Linked DNA regions of Homo sapiens. The protein of the gene in region 1 binds, or shares a complex with, the protein of each later gene. Each region holds a gene or a part of one and is shown on either strand. Other genes may lie near its edges. The genes, in order: RGL2 and KRAS.

What was found.
Region 2: the proteins of RGL2 (region 1) and KRAS are in contact, whole or in part, in a crystal structure (PDB 8B69), measured with the Homo sapiens proteins. Residues at the interface, in NP_004752.1 of Homo sapiens: Ile651, Arg653, Glu660, Asp661, Gly662, Ser663, Val664, Tyr665, Lys666, Ser667, Ile668, Leu669, Lys685, Lys686, Asn688, Arg689; in NP_001356715.1 of Homo sapiens: Ile24, Gln25, His27, Val29, Glu31, Asp33, Pro34, Thr35, Ile36, Glu37, Asp38, Ser39, Tyr40, Arg41, Lys42, Tyr64.

What each region holds. Positions count from the first base shown.
Region 1 is NC_000006.12:33,293,439-33,296,157, reverse strand, and holds part of RGL2 (ral guanine nucleotide dissociation stimulator-like 2), read left to right. Parts: coding exon 1-130; intron 131-398; coding exon 399-650; intron 651-735; coding exon 736-839; intron 840-946; coding exon 947-1,031; intron 1,032-1,112; coding exon 1,113-1,181; intron 1,182-1,395; coding exon 1,396-1,470; intron 1,471-2,091; coding exon 2,092-2,124; intron 2,125-2,222; coding exon of another isoform or gene 2,223-2,241; coding exon 2,242-2,363; intron 2,364-2,458; coding exon 2,459-2,554; intron 2,555-2,633; coding exon 2,634-2,719. UniProt on the Homo sapiens protein: Probable guanine nucleotide exchange factor. Putative effector of Ras and/or Rap. Associates with the GTP-bound form of Rap 1A and H-Ras in vitro.
Region 2 is NC_000012.12:25,205,894-25,209,718, reverse strand, and holds part of KRAS (GTPase KRas), read left to right. Parts: 3' UTR 1-3,825. UniProt on the Homo sapiens protein: Ras proteins bind GDP/GTP and possess intrinsic GTPase activity. Plays an important role in the regulation of cell proliferation.

The DNA.
Region 1 (2,719 bases):
CCGGGTGGACCCCCAGGCCCCCGACCTTCCTAAGCCCCTGGCCCTCCCCGGCGATCCCCCTGCTGACCCCACGGATGTCCTGGTGTTCCTCGCTGACCACTTGGCCGAACAGCTGACCCTGCTAGATGCGGTGAGACCCTGACCTCTGGCCCCTATGCCCCCTGACCCCTTACTAACCTCTCCTTGACTCCAGATCCTTTCCTTGCTTCCACCCCTTCCTGATCCAGCTCCTAGCCTCCTCCACCTACCATTTTGATTCTCCCCTTTTCCCTTTGGTCGTTACCCTTCAAACCCTGTGCCCCTCTGGTTCCTTGGCCACCTGAGATCCTCAGATCCCTGATATTGGAAGGCTGACCTCACTTGACTATGAACTTTAACCTCTGACCTCTACCCTGCAGGAACTTTTTCTCAATTTGATCCCCTCTCAGTGCCTGGGAGGCCTGTGGGGTCACAGAGACCGGCCAGGACATTCTCACCTCTGCCCATCTGTCCGAGCTACTGTCACACAGTTTAACAAGGTGGCAGGGGCAGTGGTTAGTTCTGTCCTGGGGGCTACTTCCACTGGAGAGGGACCTGGGGAGGTGACCATACGGCCACTCCGTCCCCCACAGAGGGCCCGGCTCCTGGAGAAGTGGATCCGCGTGGCAGAGGTGAGAGAGAAGATTGCCCTACGGTTTGTGGCCATGGAATGGAGAGGCCTCCCATAGCCTTAGCTCTCTTCTTTGACCCCCACAGGAGTGCCGGCTGCTCCGAAACTTCTCTTCAGTTTATGCCGTGGTGTCAGCCCTGCAGTCCAGCCCCATCCACAGGCTTCGGGCAGCCTGGGGGGAAGCAACCAGGTGCGGAGGCTGAGGCATTGGACTGGGGTGGGGGTTCCTCAGAAGGCGGGGAAGAGGGGGTGACAGAGCCAGGCCTGTCCTCAGGGCCACTTTTCTCCCTTCCCCAGGGACAGCCTCAGAGTCTTTTCCAGCCTCTGCCAGATTTTCTCCGAGGAGGATAATTATTCCCAGAGTCGGGAGCTGCTCGTGCAGGTGAGAGCCTGGTTTGTGGCATTCCCACCTCTCCTTGTTCCCTACTGCTCCCCCATGTCTCTTTTATTTTGTCACCACCAGGAGGTGAAGCTGCAGTCTCCTCTGGAGCCACACTCCAAGAAGGCCCCGAGGTCTGGCTCCCGGGGTGGGGTGAGTGACTAGCGGGGTGGTGGGCGTGGGGGTGGTGATTATGAAGGGGTGAGGAGTATGTTTTGGGGGAGCAGCCTGAAGGATGGGTAAGGGAGGCACAGAGGGGTGAGGAGAATGAAATCTGTTCTCTGAGGCAATGAGGAGGGCAAGTGCGGAGGGATGGAGGGCCCTCACGTCAATGGCAGGCACTTCTGACCCTGACCCCTGACTTCAGGGTGTGGTCCCATACCTTGGCACCTTCCTGAAGGACCTTGTGATGCTGGATGCAGCCTCCAAGGATGAGTTGGAGGTCAGTGGTGTGTGTGTGTGTCATTGCAATGATGTAACAAGTGGGCTGCAGGGTCGGACAGACCCCCCCGCCCCTTGCAAGGGGCTGTAAGGCACAAATAGCTGAGTGTGGGACAGAGCCAGATCTGTTTCTGTGCCAAGTCGCCTCAGTGATCTGTAAATGGGAAACTAGAAATAGCATCTACATTGATCTGTTATAAGGGTTAAATGAATTTGTATTTGTCAAGTGCTTAGAACGTGCCTGAAACGTAAGCACATCTAGGTTTTGTGATGGGCTCCTGCTCTATTGCTAGAGTTTGTTAAATAAACAAATACTGAGACCTTGGACAAGTTCCTTATCCTCTCTGGATAAGGAATCCTGTCGAATTGGATACTATCCAGTCCTCTCATCTGCAAAGCAGACTCGTTGTCTACCTGAGAAATTCAATTTAAAGGGTCAAGTGGAGTGCTTAGGCCATGATAGATTGAGGAGGAAGGCAGGGAGGGATCGAAGAGTCAGAGAGGCTGGAGGGAAGTGGTTGTGAGTTGGATGTGGCTGTGTGTGTTTAAGAGAGGGGATATTCTCTCTCTGTGGCCGGAAGGTAGGGTTGGAACTTTCACCCCATCCCCATTTTCCTCGCAGAATGGATACATCAATTTTGACAAGCGGAGGAAGGTGAGCGGAGTGTCTGGGCTGGATGCTGGACTTCCCTATCCATGTTCCAGGAAGGGGAGGGGGAAAAGTCAGGGGTCCCTGAGTTTTGGCTCCTGCAGTTTGAGGGCTCCTTCCCAGGAGTTTGCAGTCCTTTCTGAGTTGCGACGGCTCCAGAATGAATGTCGTGGCTATAACCTCCAACCTGACCATGATATCCAGAGGTGGCTACAGGGGCTCCGGCCACTGACAGAGGCTCAGAGGTGACTGGCGGGTGAGGTTGGGACTCCAGGGTTCTGGCCAGGTGTGGGGGATTGGTGTCATGTCCTGAGCTCTGCCTATTGCCCCCCTAACCCAGCCATCGTGTATCCTGTGAGGTGGAGCCACCTGGTTCCAGTGACCCTCCTGCCCCACGGGTGCTTCGGCCAACATTGGTCATCTCGCAGTGGACAGAGTGAGAGATTCACTGGCTGGGGGGTGGTTTCTTGGGACTTCCACTTTTCTCTGATCCTCCCAATCTCCTGCCACTGCAGGGTTTTGGGCTCTGTTGGGGTCCCTACCCCGCTTGTGTCCTGTGACCGGCCCAGTACTGGGGGAGATGAGGCGCCTACAACTCCTG
Region 2 (3,825 bases), on another chromosome or scaffold:
TTGTTTTAGCATTACCTAATTTTTTTCCTGCTCCATGCAGACTGTTAGCTTTTACCTTAAATGCTTATTTTAAAATGACAGTGGAAGTTTTTTTTTCCTCTAAGTGCCAGTATTCCCAGAGTTTTGGTTTTTGAACTAGCAATGCCTGTGAAAAAGAAACTGAATACCTAAGATTTCTGTCTTGGGGCTTTTGGTGCATGCAGTTGATTACTTCTTATTTTTCTTACCAATTGTGAATGTTGGTGTGAAACAAATTAATGAAGCTTTTGAATCATCCCTATTCTGTGTTTTATCTAGTCACATAAATGGATTAATTACTAATTTCAGTTGAGACCTTCTAATTGGTTTTTACTGAAACATTGAGGGAACACAAATTTATGGGCTTCCTGATGATGATTCTTCTAGGCATCATGTCCTATAGTTTGTCATCCCTGATGAATGTAAAGTTACACTGTTCACAAAGGTTTTGTCTCCTTTCCACTGCTATTAGTCATGGTCACTCTCCCCAAAATATTATATTTTTTCTATAAAAAGAAAAAAATGGAAAAAAATTACAAGGCAATGGAAACTATTATAAGGCCATTTCCTTTTCACATTAGATAAATTACTATAAAGACTCCTAATAGCTTTTCCTGTTAAGGCAGACCCAGTATGAAATGGGGATTATTATAGCAACCATTTTGGGGCTATATTTACATGCTACTAAATTTTTATAATAATTGAAAAGATTTTAACAAGTATAAAAAATTCTCATAGGAATTAAATGTAGTCTCCCTGTGTCAGACTGCTCTTTCATAGTATAACTTTAAATCTTTTCTTCAACTTGAGTCTTTGAAGATAGTTTTAATTCTGCTTGTGACATTAAAAGATTATTTGGGCCAGTTATAGCTTATTAGGTGTTGAAGAGACCAAGGTTGCAAGGCCAGGCCCTGTGTGAACCTTTGAGCTTTCATAGAGAGTTTCACAGCATGGACTGTGTCCCCACGGTCATCCAGTGTTGTCATGCATTGGTTAGTCAAAATGGGGAGGGACTAGGGCAGTTTGGATAGCTCAACAAGATACAATCTCACTCTGTGGTGGTCCTGCTGACAAATCAAGAGCATTGCTTTTGTTTCTTAAGAAAACAAACTCTTTTTTAAAAATTACTTTTAAATATTAACTCAAAAGTTGAGATTTTGGGGTGGTGGTGTGCCAAGACATTAATTTTTTTTTTAAACAATGAAGTGAAAAAGTTTTACAATCTCTAGGTTTGGCTAGTTCTCTTAACACTGGTTAAATTAACATTGCATAAACACTTTTCAAGTCTGATCCATATTTAATAATGCTTTAAAATAAAAATAAAAACAATCCTTTTGATAAATTTAAAATGTTACTTATTTTAAAATAAATGAAGTGAGATGGCATGGTGAGGTGAAAGTATCACTGGACTAGGAAGAAGGTGACTTAGGTTCTAGATAGGTGTCTTTTAGGACTCTGATTTTGAGGACATCACTTACTATCCATTTCTTCATGTTAAAAGAAGTCATCTCAAACTCTTAGTTTTTTTTTTTTACAACTATGTAATTTATATTCCATTTACATAAGGATACACTTATTTGTCAAGCTCAGCACAATCTGTAAATTTTTAACCTATGTTACACCATCTTCAGTGCCAGTCTTGGGCAAAATTGTGCAAGAGGTGAAGTTTATATTTGAATATCCATTCTCGTTTTAGGACTCTTCTTCCATATTAGTGTCATCTTGCCTCCCTACCTTCCACATGCCCCATGACTTGATGCAGTTTTAATACTTGTAATTCCCCTAACCATAAGATTTACTGCTGCTGTGGATATCTCCATGAAGTTTTCCCACTGAGTCACATCAGAAATGCCCTACATCTTATTTCCTCAGGGCTCAAGAGAATCTGACAGATACCATAAAGGGATTTGACCTAATCACTAATTTTCAGGTGGTGGCTGATGCTTTGAACATCTCTTTGCTGCCCAATCCATTAGCGACAGTAGGATTTTTCAAACCTGGTATGAATAGACAGAACCCTATCCAGTGGAAGGAGAATTTAATAAAGATAGTGCTGAAAGAATTCCTTAGGTAATCTATAACTAGGACTACTCCTGGTAACAGTAATACATTCCATTGTTTTAGTAACCAGAAATCTTCATGCAATGAAAAATACTTTAATTCATGAAGCTTACTTTTTTTTTTTGGTGTCAGAGTCTCGCTCTTGTCACCCAGGCTGGAATGCAGTGGCGCCATCTCAGCTCACTGCAACCTCCATCTCCCAGGTTCAAGCGATTCTCGTGCCTCGGCCTCCTGAGTAGCTGGGATTACAGGCGTGTGCCACTACACTCAACTAATTTTTGTATTTTTAGGAGAGACGGGGTTTCACCCTGTTGGCCAGGCTGGTCTCGAACTCCTGACCTCAAGTGATTCACCCACCTTGGCCTCATAAACCTGTTTTGCAGAACTCATTTATTCAGCAAATATTTATTGAGTGCCTACCAGATGCCAGTCACCACACAAGGCACTGGGTATATGGTATCCCCAAACAAGAGACATAATCCCGGTCCTTAGGTAGTGCTAGTGTGGTCTGTAATATCTTACTAAGGCCTTTGGTATACGACCCAGAGATAACACGATGCGTATTTTAGTTTTGCAAAGAAGGGGTTTGGTCTCTGTGCCAGCTCTATAATTGTTTTGCTACGATTCCACTGAAACTCTTCGATCAAGCTACTTTATGTAAATCACTTCATTGTTTTAAAGGAATAAACTTGATTATATTGTTTTTTTATTTGGCATAACTGTGATTCTTTTAGGACAATTACTGTACACATTAAGGTGTATGTCAGATATTCATATTGACCCAAATGTGTAATATTCCAGTTTTCTCTGCATAAGTAATTAAAATATACTTAAAAATTAATAGTTTTATCTGGGTACAAATAAACAGGTGCCTGAACTAGTTCACAGACAAGGAAACTTCTATGTAAAAATCACTATGATTTCTGAATTGCTATGTGAAACTACAGATCTTTGGAACACTGTTTAGGTAGGGTGTTAAGACTTACACAGTACCTCGTTTCTACACAGAGAAAGAAATGGCCATACTTCAGGAACTGCAGTGCTTATGAGGGGATATTTAGGCCTCTTGAATTTTTGATGTAGATGGGCATTTTTTTAAGGTAGTGGTTAATTACCTTTATGTGAACTTTGAATGGTTTAACAAAAGATTTGTTTTTGTAGAGATTTTAAAGGGGGAGAATTCTAGAAATAAATGTTACCTAATTATTACAGCCTTAAAGACAAAAATCCTTGTTGAAGTTTTTTTAAAAAAAGCTAAATTACATAGACTTAGGCATTAACATGTTTGTGGAAGAATATAGCAGACGTATATTGTATCATTTGAGTGAATGTTCCCAAGTAGGCATTCTAGGCTCTATTTAACTGAGTCACACTGCATAGGAATTTAGAACCTAACTTTTATAGGTTATCAAAACTGTTGTCACCATTGCACAATTTTGTCCTAATATATACATAGAAACTTTGTGGGGCATGTTAAGTTACAGTTTGCACAAGTTCATCTCATTTGTATTCCATTGATTTTTTTTTTCTTCTAAACATTTTTTCTTCAAACAGTATATAACTTTTTTTAGGGGATTTTTTTTTAGACAGCAAAAACTATCTGAAGATTTCCATTTGTCAAAAAGTAATGATTTCTTGATAATTGTGTAGTAATGTTTTTTAGAACCCAGCAGTTACCTTAAAGCTGAATTTATATTTAGTAACTTCTGTGTTAATACTGGATAGCATGAATTCTGCATTGAGAAA